Linked DNA regions of Homo sapiens. The protein of the gene in region 1 interacts with the protein of each later gene in a pairwise test. Each region holds a gene or a part of one and is shown in the gene's direction. Other genes may lie near its edges.

Evidence for each region.
Region 2: the proteins of GPR137B (region 1) and TRIM32 interact in binary tests that used the Homo sapiens proteins (3 or more experiments, as listed by UniProt).

The regions. Positions count from the first base shown.
Region 1 is NC_000001.11:236,145,491-236,152,774, forward strand, and holds part of GPR137B (integral membrane protein GPR137B), read left to right. Parts: intron 1-7,284. UniProt on the Homo sapiens protein: Lysosomal integral membrane protein that regulates the localization and activity of mTORC1, a signaling complex promoting cell growth in response to growth factors, energy levels, and amino acids.
Region 2 is NC_000009.12:116,697,024-116,701,802, forward strand, and holds the end of TRIM32 (E3 ubiquitin-protein ligase TRIM32), read left to right. Parts: intron 1-349; exon of another isoform or gene 350-410; intron 411-638; 5' UTR 639-719; coding exon 720-2,681; 3' UTR 2,682-4,276; downstream 4,277-4,779. UniProt on the Homo sapiens protein: E3 ubiquitin ligase that plays a role in various biological processes including neural stem cell differentiation, innate immunity, inflammatory resonse and autophagy.

The DNA.
Region 1 (7,284 bases):
TGGGACTACAGGTGTGTGCCACTATGCCCAGCTAAGTTTTGTATTTTTAGTAGAGACAGTGTTTCACCATGTTGACCAGGATGGTCTTGATCTCTTGACCTTGTGATCTGTCCACCTCGGCCTCCCAAAGTGCTGGGATTACAGGTGTGAGCCACCGCACCCGGCCAAGAAAGCACACTTCTAAGCAATTGGTTATATTTATTTTTACCAGAACTCTCTGAAGAAAGTACCGGTATTGTCCCCATTTTCCAGAGGAGGAAACTGAGGCTGAGAGGTCGTAGATGACTTGCTCAAGGTCACACTGTCAGTGCATGGTGGAGCTGGGATTCAACACACATCTGTGCTGTCTGAGTGTGAGGTTTGTCTTTTATGTACAGTATGTGAAACCTCTTTTTATTTTATTTTTTGAGATAGAGCCTTGCTTTGTGGTGATCTGGGTTCACTGCAACCTCTGCCTCCTGGATTCAAGCGATTCTCCTGCCTCAGCCTCCCGAGTATCTGGGATTACAGGCACCTGCCACTGCACCTGGCTAATTTTTGTATTTTTAGTAGAGATGGAGTTTTGCCATGTTGGCCAGGTTGGTCTCAAACTCCTGACCTCAAGTAATCTGCCCACCTCGGCCTCCCAAAGTGCCGTGATTACAGGTGTGAGCCACCGCGCCTGGCCATGAAACCTCTTAACAATGGGAAAACATACCCAACTCTAAATCTAACCTCGTGTTCTCCTGGAGCGCAAAATCAGGTTGCAGAGAATCAAAGTATACATACAGCACAGTTAAGGCACGATTTGCGGCACTGAAGGGAATGGTTATTGAAGCGTCAGGAGACTTGAATGAGACATGAGTCCTCTGAGAAGAAGCAGGTGTCTGGAGGCTGAAGCTGGGTGGGGAGGAAGAGAGGATGGTGGGAAGGAAGTCGTGGGGGCAGTTTGGGAATTGGGAATGAACTGGAAGGAGAGGTCCGAGATGGGGAGGAAGCTTTTTTCTGTTGTTGTCAGTCCTTTGTGCTTTTGCAGGGTCCCTGTACCTGGGCCTTACTCATCTCACCCTCCCTGGTGACCCAGAGGGTACTGTTACCCCCCAACTGAGGCTCGGAGGGGTGAGAACACTTGCCCACACTGCCCCGTCCGAGCCTCCGTGCAATGCACACGATGCTGCAGTACGCAGCCCCGGCTGCCCTTGGGTACACATCTGAGGGTAATGCGATCATGAGCAAGCTCAATTTGATTAACTTACCCCTAAATCACTGCTTTTAAATTCTGCCATGTTAAGTCTCTTTCCACCCCTAATGACCTCTCAGGCAGATCCTATGGCTTTCTAGTCATACTCGGTAATTATTATTATTTTGGAGTCTGGCTCTGTCACCCAGGCCGCAGTAGTGTGATCTTGGCTCACTGCAACCTCCGCCTCCCAGATTCAAGCAGTTCTCCTGCCTCGGCCTCCTTAGTAGCTGAGATTACAGGTGTGCGCCACCACGCCTGGCTAATTTCTGTATTTTCAGTAGAGACAGGGTTTCACCATCTTGGCCAGGCTGGTTTTGAACTCCTGACCTCAGGTGATCTGCCTACCTCGGCTTCCCAAAGTGCTGGGATTGCAGGCGTGAGCCACTGTGCCTGGCCCATACTCCTTTATTAAATCTTTACGTCTGATTTAAAGCTTCTCCCACACTGTCCAAGGCCAGCCAGGCTTCGAGCTGCAGGGCTTGGTGCAGAGGGTGTGCCCATGCTCTCAGCCTCTCCCCTTCCATCTTCCCAGGCAGCCCAGGGGAGGGGCACACTCTCTCGTGACTGCCAGCGTGTCGGCCTCTGGTCTTGCTCTGGCGCCGCCTCTGTGGGTAACTGCCACGTGGCCATGTTGACATGATGGACTTCAGCTTCTTCCTAGCCCCATCTTTGGTCTCCCTTCCATCCCAATTCCTTCTTCAGGGGGCAGCCACATGGCTTTAGGCCCCTTTTCGAAAAGCCCTTTTAGGGCTTTTTCTTAGAAAGCCATGGGATCACTGAGGCCCCTCCACTCCCACTTGGCCACATGGGTGACAGGCTGGATGCCTAACTAGCGTCTTCAGGACCCTGCACCTGGCTGCTTTTCACTCCTTGCGTGCCTAGGGGCCCTCCCACCTGTAAAAATCCCAGGTGGAAGCAAGCATCACCCTCCAAGTGCCTGGTGCCTCCAGATCACCAGGGCACAGGTCAGGCTCCACCGGGACTCCACCTGCAAACAGTCCCAGCTCAGCAAGCATCTGCCCGGGCCCCCTTCCTGCCCAATCCCTGTGAGCAGTGTCCATGTGTCTTTCTCCTTTCTGACCTGGGGTGAGGTGCCCTGCTGGTAGCAGGCTGTTAACTCTTTTTCTCCATCTCCACTCTCCACCTTCCAGTTCAGCCTGGGAACATGGGGAGGCGGCTGTGGTAGGACTGGTTCTGCTAACTCTCTCCGGGCCGTCTGTATGCAGTGTCTGTCTGGCCCCAAATGTTTGGAACATGGAGTGCTGACTACCTGTTGTTTCCAGCTGTGGCTCCTTGTGCCAGCTTTGGGGAACAGCTGAGCTTCTGCTCCCGGCTGCATGAGGAAGTGGCGGGACCAAGGCTTTGCACCAAGGCCTTTGACTCAGAGCCTGTTCTAAGCGCTGTGTCAAATCACCATTTTAGTGGGGACTTAGGAGAGGGGCAGGACTCTGAAACCTAAGGCAGGCAGGGGTCTCTGCTCATGAGGAATTATGGTGCCTTCTACCTCCAGGTTTCAGGATAGAGGCTCAGAAGCAAAGGCGGTAGCTTCTGTGCCCAGGCAGCTCCTGGGCAGACAGGTCTGTGCCCTGCAGGGGCAGAAGTTGATGTGGCGGTGGGCTCGGTGACACCTCGGCAGCCACGTATCCCAGCCCTTCTTCCTCGGAATTCCCAGCCTGGAACTCAGACTCTCCAGATTCCCGAGTTTGGCAGGATGGAACAGGCTGGTTCAGCTTTGTCTTGGGCCCTATGACAAACTCCTGCCATTGCAGTCACATGGTTTGCGGAAGGAAATGGAGAAGCGAGTTCTCTCCATGGGGAGAGGTGCTGTGATGAATGGACACTGATGTGGGAACTGAGACCTGAGACGTCACCATGCCTTGGAGGGCAGATGGGAAGCTGACATTTATCGGGGTCTGGTCTGTTCTGTTCTGAAACTCAGCTAGGGACTTCCACACCCTCCACTCAGCTGCAGCAGGGATGGTTCGTGAGTCATGTGGTCCTGTGGGATGGTGCCAGGGGCTCGTGGTGAGGGCCTGCGGCTCATGGTAGGGGCTCATAGTCGGTGTTGGGAGCTCATCATGGGCACTAGGCCAGCAAAGCCTTATGAATGAGGAGGCAGCCCTGGGAGTGAAGGAGCAGGGTCCCTGGGTGCAGATCTGGGTTCCAATCCGGGCTTTGCCTCCAGTGTGGGTCCCATGGCTGGTTACCACCTCTCTAAGGCTGCTGCTTCACCAGGGAGACAGAAACTGTAATACTCATCCCATGGGTCGGAGTGGGTTAAAGGAGATGCCGTGTGTCCTGAATCCCTTTGCTCCTCTCCTCCCTTAGTTGAGATTCTCACTGTGTGTTGCCTACAGCTCTGAACCTAGGCTCTTGCTTCGACACCCAGCCACTGTCCTGAAGGTCAGGTCCCCGGGCTGACCCTGCCCTTTTCCAGCCTACTGTGCCATCAAAATTACTTTTCCACCAAACAGCAGCTTTTCTGTTTGTAAAACGGTGGTGACTCTTGGCGCACCCGTAGGGAGCATGTGGCAAGCCTAATCGCAGTGCCTGACATGAGAGCAGAAGGCACTGGGGGTCCAGCAGCCCAGCCCCTCCTTTGCAGATGAGCCGACCAGAGGAGGAAATTCTCCCAGGCAGCCCAGCCAGGCGTGCAGAGGCAGGACAAGTCCCGTGTTTCAGGCTGACCGATCCGTGCTTGCTACAGACGCCACACTCTGACTTGAAGTGGGTCATAGTCCTCATTCTTGCTGGTAGGGAACTAAGAGGCCCCTAAAAGTCGAATCCAGGAACTAGTCCTCCGTGCTCACCAGGAAAGGGACGTGGGTGATTGTAGGAGTAAGGGGCTTCGGCTGTGGCTCTTGGCGGTCAGTTTAGTCAAGACGTGTTTATCAAATACCTGTCGTGTGGCAGGCCCTAGTCTAGGAGTTGTGAAGAGGGAAGCTTCTAGGCCTTTTGGTGATTGTAAAGAAGTAAGAGGCTTAGGAAACAGACAAGGCGGGCCAAGGGCAAGGACTGTGCTCAGCCTGGCCTCTGGGCCCTGCGCCCATGGCCTCAGCCCCTGGCACCGGCTCCCTGCGGAGCTAGCTCAGTGGGCTCATGGCCAGCCAGAGTTGTGTGTGCACCTAGGTGTGCGCCTTTGTATGTGTATGTGCATGTGTGCCTGTGTGCACCTGTGTGTATGTACATGTGTGCCTGTGCACGTGTGGCTGCGTGCACCTGTGTGTGTATGTGCATATGCGTGTGTGCCTGTGTGCACCTGTGTGTGTGTGGGGTTTGTGTATGTGTGCCTGTGTGTGTGCCTGTGTGTGTACCTGTGTGTGTGTGTGCCTGCCTCTGTGTGCCTGTGTCTGTGTGGGTCTCTGAGTGTCTGTGCATGTGTGTGTCTGTGCCTGTGTATGTCTGTGCCTGCGTGTGCCTGTGTGTGTGCCTCTGTTTGTGTCTGTGCATGTGTGTGCCCGTTTGTGTTTGTGTGTGTCTGTGTGCCTGTGTGTGTGTCTGTGCCTGTGTGTGCCTGTGTATGTCTGTGCCCGTGTGTGTGCCTGTGTTTGTGTGTGTCTGTGCCTGTGTGTGTCTTTGCCTGTGTTTGTGTGTATGTGCCTGTGTGTGTGTCTGTGCATGTGTGTGCCTGTGTGTGTGGAAAGGTTTCCTTATTTTCTTGGTCTGCCGTTCACCCCCAGCACCTCCCGCAGGCCACTTTCTAAACATACAGCCCAGTTTCCCGAGCCCTCTCCTCGAGCCATGGCAGCGTGCTCTTCTCTCTGCAGCTGAGGCTGTGACCGCATCAGTGCCTCGGTGATGCCCTGCCAACCGAGGGGGAACTAAATCCTGTTAATGCCCTCAGCACTCGGGGAACAATTAGGCCCCTCACAGCACATTCAGCATCCAACCCCAGTGACCATGCAGGAAGCCTGGACTTCCCCACAGCAGAGGCTGGGCTGAGGCTGCTGCCGGGTCACCATCAGGAGCGCCCTACTGTCGGCTCCGAACACTGTGGCACCTGCAGGCTTTGCTACGGCTTCTTGCTCACCTGCCTTTCCGTAGTCAGACAGGCAGAACTGGTAGTGACCAGCAGGGAGGCAGGGCCGGAGCACTGTCCTGAGGCTAGTGCAGGTTCTCAGTGGAGTTCCAGGGCCCAGCCATGGCTGTCCCGCTGCTGCTGTGCCCACCCTCTGAGCCCCAGGCTAGCTGCTCAGCGTTGAGTGGCGGGGAGTGGAGGGCAGGGGTCATGACAGTGAGGGGTGGGCTGCCCAGAGAGGAACATTTGCAAGATCCAAGACCCTCTACAAAATCTCACTGCAAGCGTCTTAGGGTTTTGCAAACAACAAAGTCATGTGATCCCAAGAGCCGCTTTTGTCAGGCTGTTCCTGTTGGCCTTGCGTTTCCAGTGAGAAGAAGAAAGCTGGTTCCTGGTTGGAAGGTCTGTCTGGGTCCTGACATTTTGGCCGGCCAGTTCTCTCAGTACAGAAATAGCCCCAGCAGACTGTTTAGACAGTACCTGGGACAACAGGCATTCCCCGAGGGCTGCAGAGGCTCATAAATATTTCACTTTTTATGTTTCCTGCAGCTGAAGCTTAGAGTCCATTAACCTATAAGGACAGATGAAGCCCAAATGGTTTTACTCTGCAAGTGGGTTGATTACCTCAAGCTTATGTGGGTCAGGATTTTAGGCCTGTGAGCCACATATGGTCTCTGTTGCATATTCATTTTTTTTTTTTTTTTTTTTTTTTGAGACAGAGTCTTGCTCTGTCGCCAAGCTGGAGTGCAGTGGCGCAATCTCGGCTCACTGCAACATCTGCCTCCCAGGTTCAAGTGATTCTCCTGCCACAGCCTCCCGAGTAGCTGGGACTACAGGTGCCCGCCACCATGCCCAGCTAATTTTTGTATTTTTAGTAGAGACGGGGTTTCACAATGTTGGCCAGGATGATCTCGATCTCTTGACCTCATGATCCGCCTGCCTCGGCCTTCCAAAGTGCTGGGATTACAGGCGTGAGCCACTGCGCCCGGCCTCCCTCCTCGATTTTTAAATGGCATACACACTTGCGAGGCTGAGCTACGCAGTCTGCAAAACACAGGGTGAAAAAACCCCCATACACGGTGGGGTTGGCTCTGTGGGCTGCTCCCACCCCATAGGCTACTCTCCCTGTCACCTTGGACTCTGCTGCCACAGCTTCTTTGTAGCTGTCAGAGGTCATGTTGTCCCATCAGGCTGTGTGACGGTCCATTTTTAGTGCATGAGTGGTGGCAGATAAGGAGGGAAGTGGGCAGGGTGTGAGCAACCTTGGCGTGCCGTGAGCCTGGCCCCATCAGGCCCACACTCATTTTCTGGGAAGACAGCACACATCTATCCATGCGAGAGGGCCTCGTCCTCCCAGCTTTCACAAAGCAACATAAAGTTCAACTGGAACATGGCGATTCATTTCATTTATTCAACAGGTGTTTTTTTTTAAATTAAAAAAATTGTATTGTCTGGGTGTGGTGAATTACACCTGTAATCCCAACACTTTGGGAGGACGAGGCAGGAGGTTCGCTTGAGCCCAGGAGTTCAAGACTATCCTGGGCAATATAGTGAGATCTCATCTGTACAAAAAATTAAAAAATTAGCCAAGCATAGTGGCATGCACCTGTAATCCCAGCTACTCAAGAGGCTGAGGTGGGAGGATTGCTTGAACTTGGGAGGTCAAGGCTGCAGTGAGCTGAGATCGCACCACTGCATTCTAGCCTGGGTGATAGAGCGAGACCTGTCTCAAAAAAATGTATTGGGGCTGGACACAGTGGCTTATGCCTGTAATCCCAGCACTTTGGGAGGCCGAGGCGGGTGGATCATCTGAGGTCAGTAGTTCAGACCACCCTGGCCAACACGGTGAAACCCCATCTCTACCAAAAATACAAAAATTAGCTAGGCGTGGTGGGCGCCTGTAATCCCAGCCATTGAGGAGGCTGAGACAGGAGAATTGCTTGAATCCGGGAGGCAGAGGTTGCAGTGAGCCAAGATCGCACCGTTGCACTGTAACCTGGGTGACAAGAGTGAAACTCCATCTCAAAAAGAAAAACAATGTATT
Region 2 (4,779 bases), on another chromosome or scaffold:
CTTCATTTCTTTCAAGACATATCTTAGGAGTGAAACTGCTTTTGGGAAGCCTTCCCCAAGTCTGTTAGGTAGAATCCATCATTCCATCCACTGTACTCCAGCAGAACATTATGTGGACTTGCATGTTATACTTATTCCTTTTACTGTGCATAATTCTCCTGTGCTTTTCTCTTAGTGTAAATCAGAAGTTGTAAAATTCACCAAATATGAAAATAATCATTAGCTCATTAGCATTTATTACAAGTATACTACTTCCCTGGTGCTATACTAAGCACATCATATTTATCTTGTTACTTAGCCCTTATAATAACCATATAAGGCAGACACCATTATTACTTCTATTTTACAGATGAGTGATGGGGAAAGAGCTTTTGGAAGTTTGAGTTAATTCCTTATGGTCATGCAGCTAAGTAAGTGTCTGAGACTACAGAATCTGAATTATTTCCCACTATGCAGTGTTTTGTCTGGTTTGTTTCCCTATCTGTCACCCTCACGTGACATATAATAGACCTCAATAAAATAGTTGTTAAGTAAGGGAATGACTGAATGACTGGTCATAGCTATTCTCTAAATGTTTCTTGAGTGAATTTATTTATATAGTCAGAGGAAAATGAATAATGGTTTCTTTTTCTCTTTAGCAGGAATTTGACCCTCTAGGGCATGAATACTGTGCTGTTCAGTTCTGAGCTGTGCTAGCAATACCCTTCAAAGGAAGAGCAATGGCTGCAGCAGCAGCTTCTCACCTGAACCTGGATGCCCTCCGGGAAGTGCTAGAATGCCCCATCTGCATGGAGTCCTTCACAGAAGAGCAGCTGCGTCCCAAGCTTCTGCACTGTGGCCATACCATCTGCCGCCAGTGCCTGGAGAAGCTATTGGCCAGTAGCATCAATGGTGTCCGCTGTCCCTTTTGCAGCAAGATTACCCGCATAACCAGCTTGACCCAGCTGACAGACAATCTGACAGTGCTAAAGATCATTGATACAGCTGGGCTCAGCGAGGCTGTGGGGCTGCTCATGTGTCGGTCCTGTGGGCGGCGTCTGCCCCGGCAATTCTGCCGGAGCTGTGGTTTGGTGTTATGTGAGCCCTGCCGGGAGGCAGACCATCAGCCTCCTGGCCACTGTACACTCCCTGTCAAAGAAGCAGCTGAGGAGCGGCGTCGGGACTTTGGAGAGAAGTTAACTCGTCTGCGGGAACTTATGGGGGAGCTGCAGCGGCGGAAGGCAGCCTTGGAAGGTGTCTCCAAGGACCTTCAGGCAAGGTATAAAGCAGTTCTCCAGGAGTATGGGCATGAGGAGCGCAGGGTCCAGGATGAGCTGGCTCGCTCTCGGAAGTTCTTCACAGGCTCTTTGGCTGAAGTTGAGAAGTCCAATAGTCAAGTGGTAGAGGAGCAGAGTTACCTGCTTAACATTGCAGAGGTGCAGGCTGTGTCTCGCTGTGACTACTTCCTGGCCAAGATCAAGCAGGCAGATGTAGCACTACTGGAGGAGACAGCTGATGAGGAGGAGCCAGAGCTCACTGCCAGCTTGCCTCGGGAGCTCACCCTGCAAGATGTGGAGCTCCTTAAGGTAGGTCATGTTGGCCCCCTCCAAATTGGACAAGCTGTTAAGAAGCCCCGGACAGTTAACGTGGAAGATTCCTGGGCCATGGAGGCCACAGCGTCTGCTGCCTCTACCTCTGTTACTTTTAGAGAGATGGACATGAGCCCGGAGGAAGTGGTTGCCAGCCCTAGGGCCTCACCTGCTAAACAGCGGGGTCCTGAGGCAGCCTCCAATATCCAGCAGTGCCTCTTTCTCAAGAAGATGGGGGCCAAAGGCAGCACTCCAGGAATGTTCAATCTTCCAGTCAGTCTCTACGTGACCAGTCAAGGTGAAGTACTAGTCGCTGACCGTGGTAACTATCGTATACAAGTCTTTACCCGCAAAGGCTTTTTGAAGGAAATCCGCCGCAGCCCCAGTGGCATTGATAGCTTTGTGCTAAGCTTCCTTGGGGCAGATCTACCCAACCTCACTCCTCTCTCAGTGGCAATGAACTGCCAGGGGCTGATTGGTGTGACTGACAGCTATGATAACTCCCTCAAGGTATATACCTTGGATGGCCACTGCGTGGCCTGTCACAGGAGCCAGCTGAGCAAACCATGGGGTATCACAGCCTTGCCATCTGGCCAGTTTGTAGTAACCGATGTGGAAGGTGGAAAGCTTTGGTGTTTCACAGTTGATCGAGGATCAGGGGTGGTCAAATACAGCTGCCTATGTAGTGCTGTGCGGCCCAAATTTGTCACCTGTGATGCTGAGGGCACCGTCTACTTCACCCAGGGCTTAGGCCTCAATCTGGAGAATCGGCAGAATGAGCACCACCTGGAGGGTGGCTTTTCCATTGGCTCTGTAGGCCCTGATGGGCAGCTGGGTCGCCAGATTAGCCACTTCTTCTCGGAGAATGAGGATTTCCGCTGCATTGCTGGCATGTGTGTGGATGCTCGTGGTGATCTCATCGTGGCTGACAGTAGTCGCAAGGAAATTCTCCATTTTCCTAAGGGTGGGGGCTATAGTGTCCTTATTCGAGAGGGACTTACCTGTCCGGTGGGCATAGCCCTAACTCCTAAGGGGCAGCTGCTGGTCTTGGACTGTTGGGATCATTGCATCAAGATCTACAGCTACCATCTGAGAAGATATTCCACCCCATAGGGGATGAGAAATTATCAGTTTCTTCTGCTCCCAAGCCAACTTCCCTTCCCTTAGTTCTTGGTTGTTAGTGGCACATGCAGAATAGACTCAGCCTATGTCCTGATTCCAGCTGGGTAGTTCTAGAACTTCAGAAGCTCCATCTTTTAATGTTTTTATTTGTTATGTCCCCCTCCCCGCTTCCCACCTAAATTTAGAGCTTTAAAAGATGCACTGCCCAAATAGGACACACGATGGTGTTAGCTGAAGTTTGATTAGCAATTAGGCACTTCCAAGGCTTTAGTAGAGAGAGCCACTTTAGCCCTTTGTGCCATGTTTGAAATTTGCCCTTGTATTAAATCCTTGATTTTTTCCCATTTGGCTTTGATGCCCTTGATCCATTGTTTCCTTCCTACTATAATGTGCTTCATCTGTGACACTTTCTCTTGAACTCTGATTGGATTCACTGTGCATGCTTCAGTGGGATCTGCTCCACCTTTCAGTGACATTTAAGACATCATATTCCCGTAACATTATGTCTCAGTCTGATCGTCTTTACCAGTATGAAAGTCATTCATTTAGTGCTACCAAAGGGGATACACAAGCCCTTTAGGAAGCAGTACCTCTCGCCTGGAGGATCTGTGCCATCTTGGATTGAGAATTGCAGATGTGACAGAATGGATTGACCCTAGTTGGTTGGTATTGATGACTTCAGCCTGGAAATTGCTTGCCTTTTAAAGAAGCATATATGGGTTGGAATTATGCCAAAGCATAGGAAGCTGGGAATAAGCAAACAAATGCTGATATAGTCAGCAAATTTGGATAGTCTCTAGGGCTCATCATTTTTCATACTACCTCTCTCTTCTGGCCTGTGTCTAAGGAATTGTACAACATAGGCCAGGGCCAACAAAGTGGAGAGGTGGACACATTTTCATGTTCATTACTAAAACAAACAGCAAAACTATTGGTTTGTTATTCTGTGTTTTCCTCAAGTCAGTACATACTATTTGGTTTCAGGATTTCTTTCCATTTCTCTATCAAGCATTAAATAATTGAGAACTGTTTCTTCATCTCTGGTGTTCATGTCTTTTAATTAAATACGGAATTTTGGAGATGATAAGAGGGATAACCTGCGCTATGCCATTTTGCTTCCTTATCTCACTGTGTTCTTTCAGAGTGTAGATATCTACCCAGGTCAAAATTCAGCCAAAAGCACTATTATGTAAAGATAATAATCCAAATCTTTCTCCCAAATACATGTGTACAGAATCATCCCCCAAGGTTTAGAGTCACCAATACCCTATTCTGAGCTTCTGCTGTATGTTTTATGTTTATAATTACAGTTCACAAAAAGGAAGTTAGTCTTGTTTTTAAGATCAGAAGTGGGTGAGAGGACCTGTGATGAGGTTCCTGAGGGTTTGGTGTTTACTAAGTAATATATCTTACTCTAGGTGCAGGGCTGATGGCAAGCCAAAGAGCAACTGCCTTACTTTGATGTAAACAAAATTTGCTAAACTGAGCTGCTCAAAATTGTTTTTATGGTAGTAGTGTTTCTTTGGATTGTATCATAATAGCTGCCAAAGGATAGGTAAAGAGGTCATTAAAATGATGTTGAACTAGTTTGTCTTGTTCTTTTCATCTGGAGAAAGCCCCATATTCTGATTATGAAATTGCATCCGATTTTCAAAGATTGGGTAATTGAGAGGAAATTGATCCAATTGAAAGTGCATCACAAATGACTCCACTAGTTATTAGAGCCACTTTATCTGTGGGGGCACCCAGCAGCAGGAGATCTGTCTTTGCTGTCAGTGGGGGACTTGCTGAGGCAATAACAGTGGCTCAGGCCTTTGGCACACAGTTTGCAGTGGAGAGAGAAATATAATATTGTGGGCAGGCTGAAGGTAAATGAGGCCAGGAATCCTCCAGCTGTCTGTGCTTTTGAAAGAGGTGCCATCACTGAGTGACATTCAGCATTTAGATCTCTACCCATCTAAACCAGTCATGCCTTTTCCCTCAAGTAAAGCAGTTATCTGTTGGCTCAAAATGGAAGTGTGATCTGAGTCTTTTTCCTTTTTCCCCTTTGATGTGAATATTTTAGGCTGTGCTTAGTACAGTCGATGTT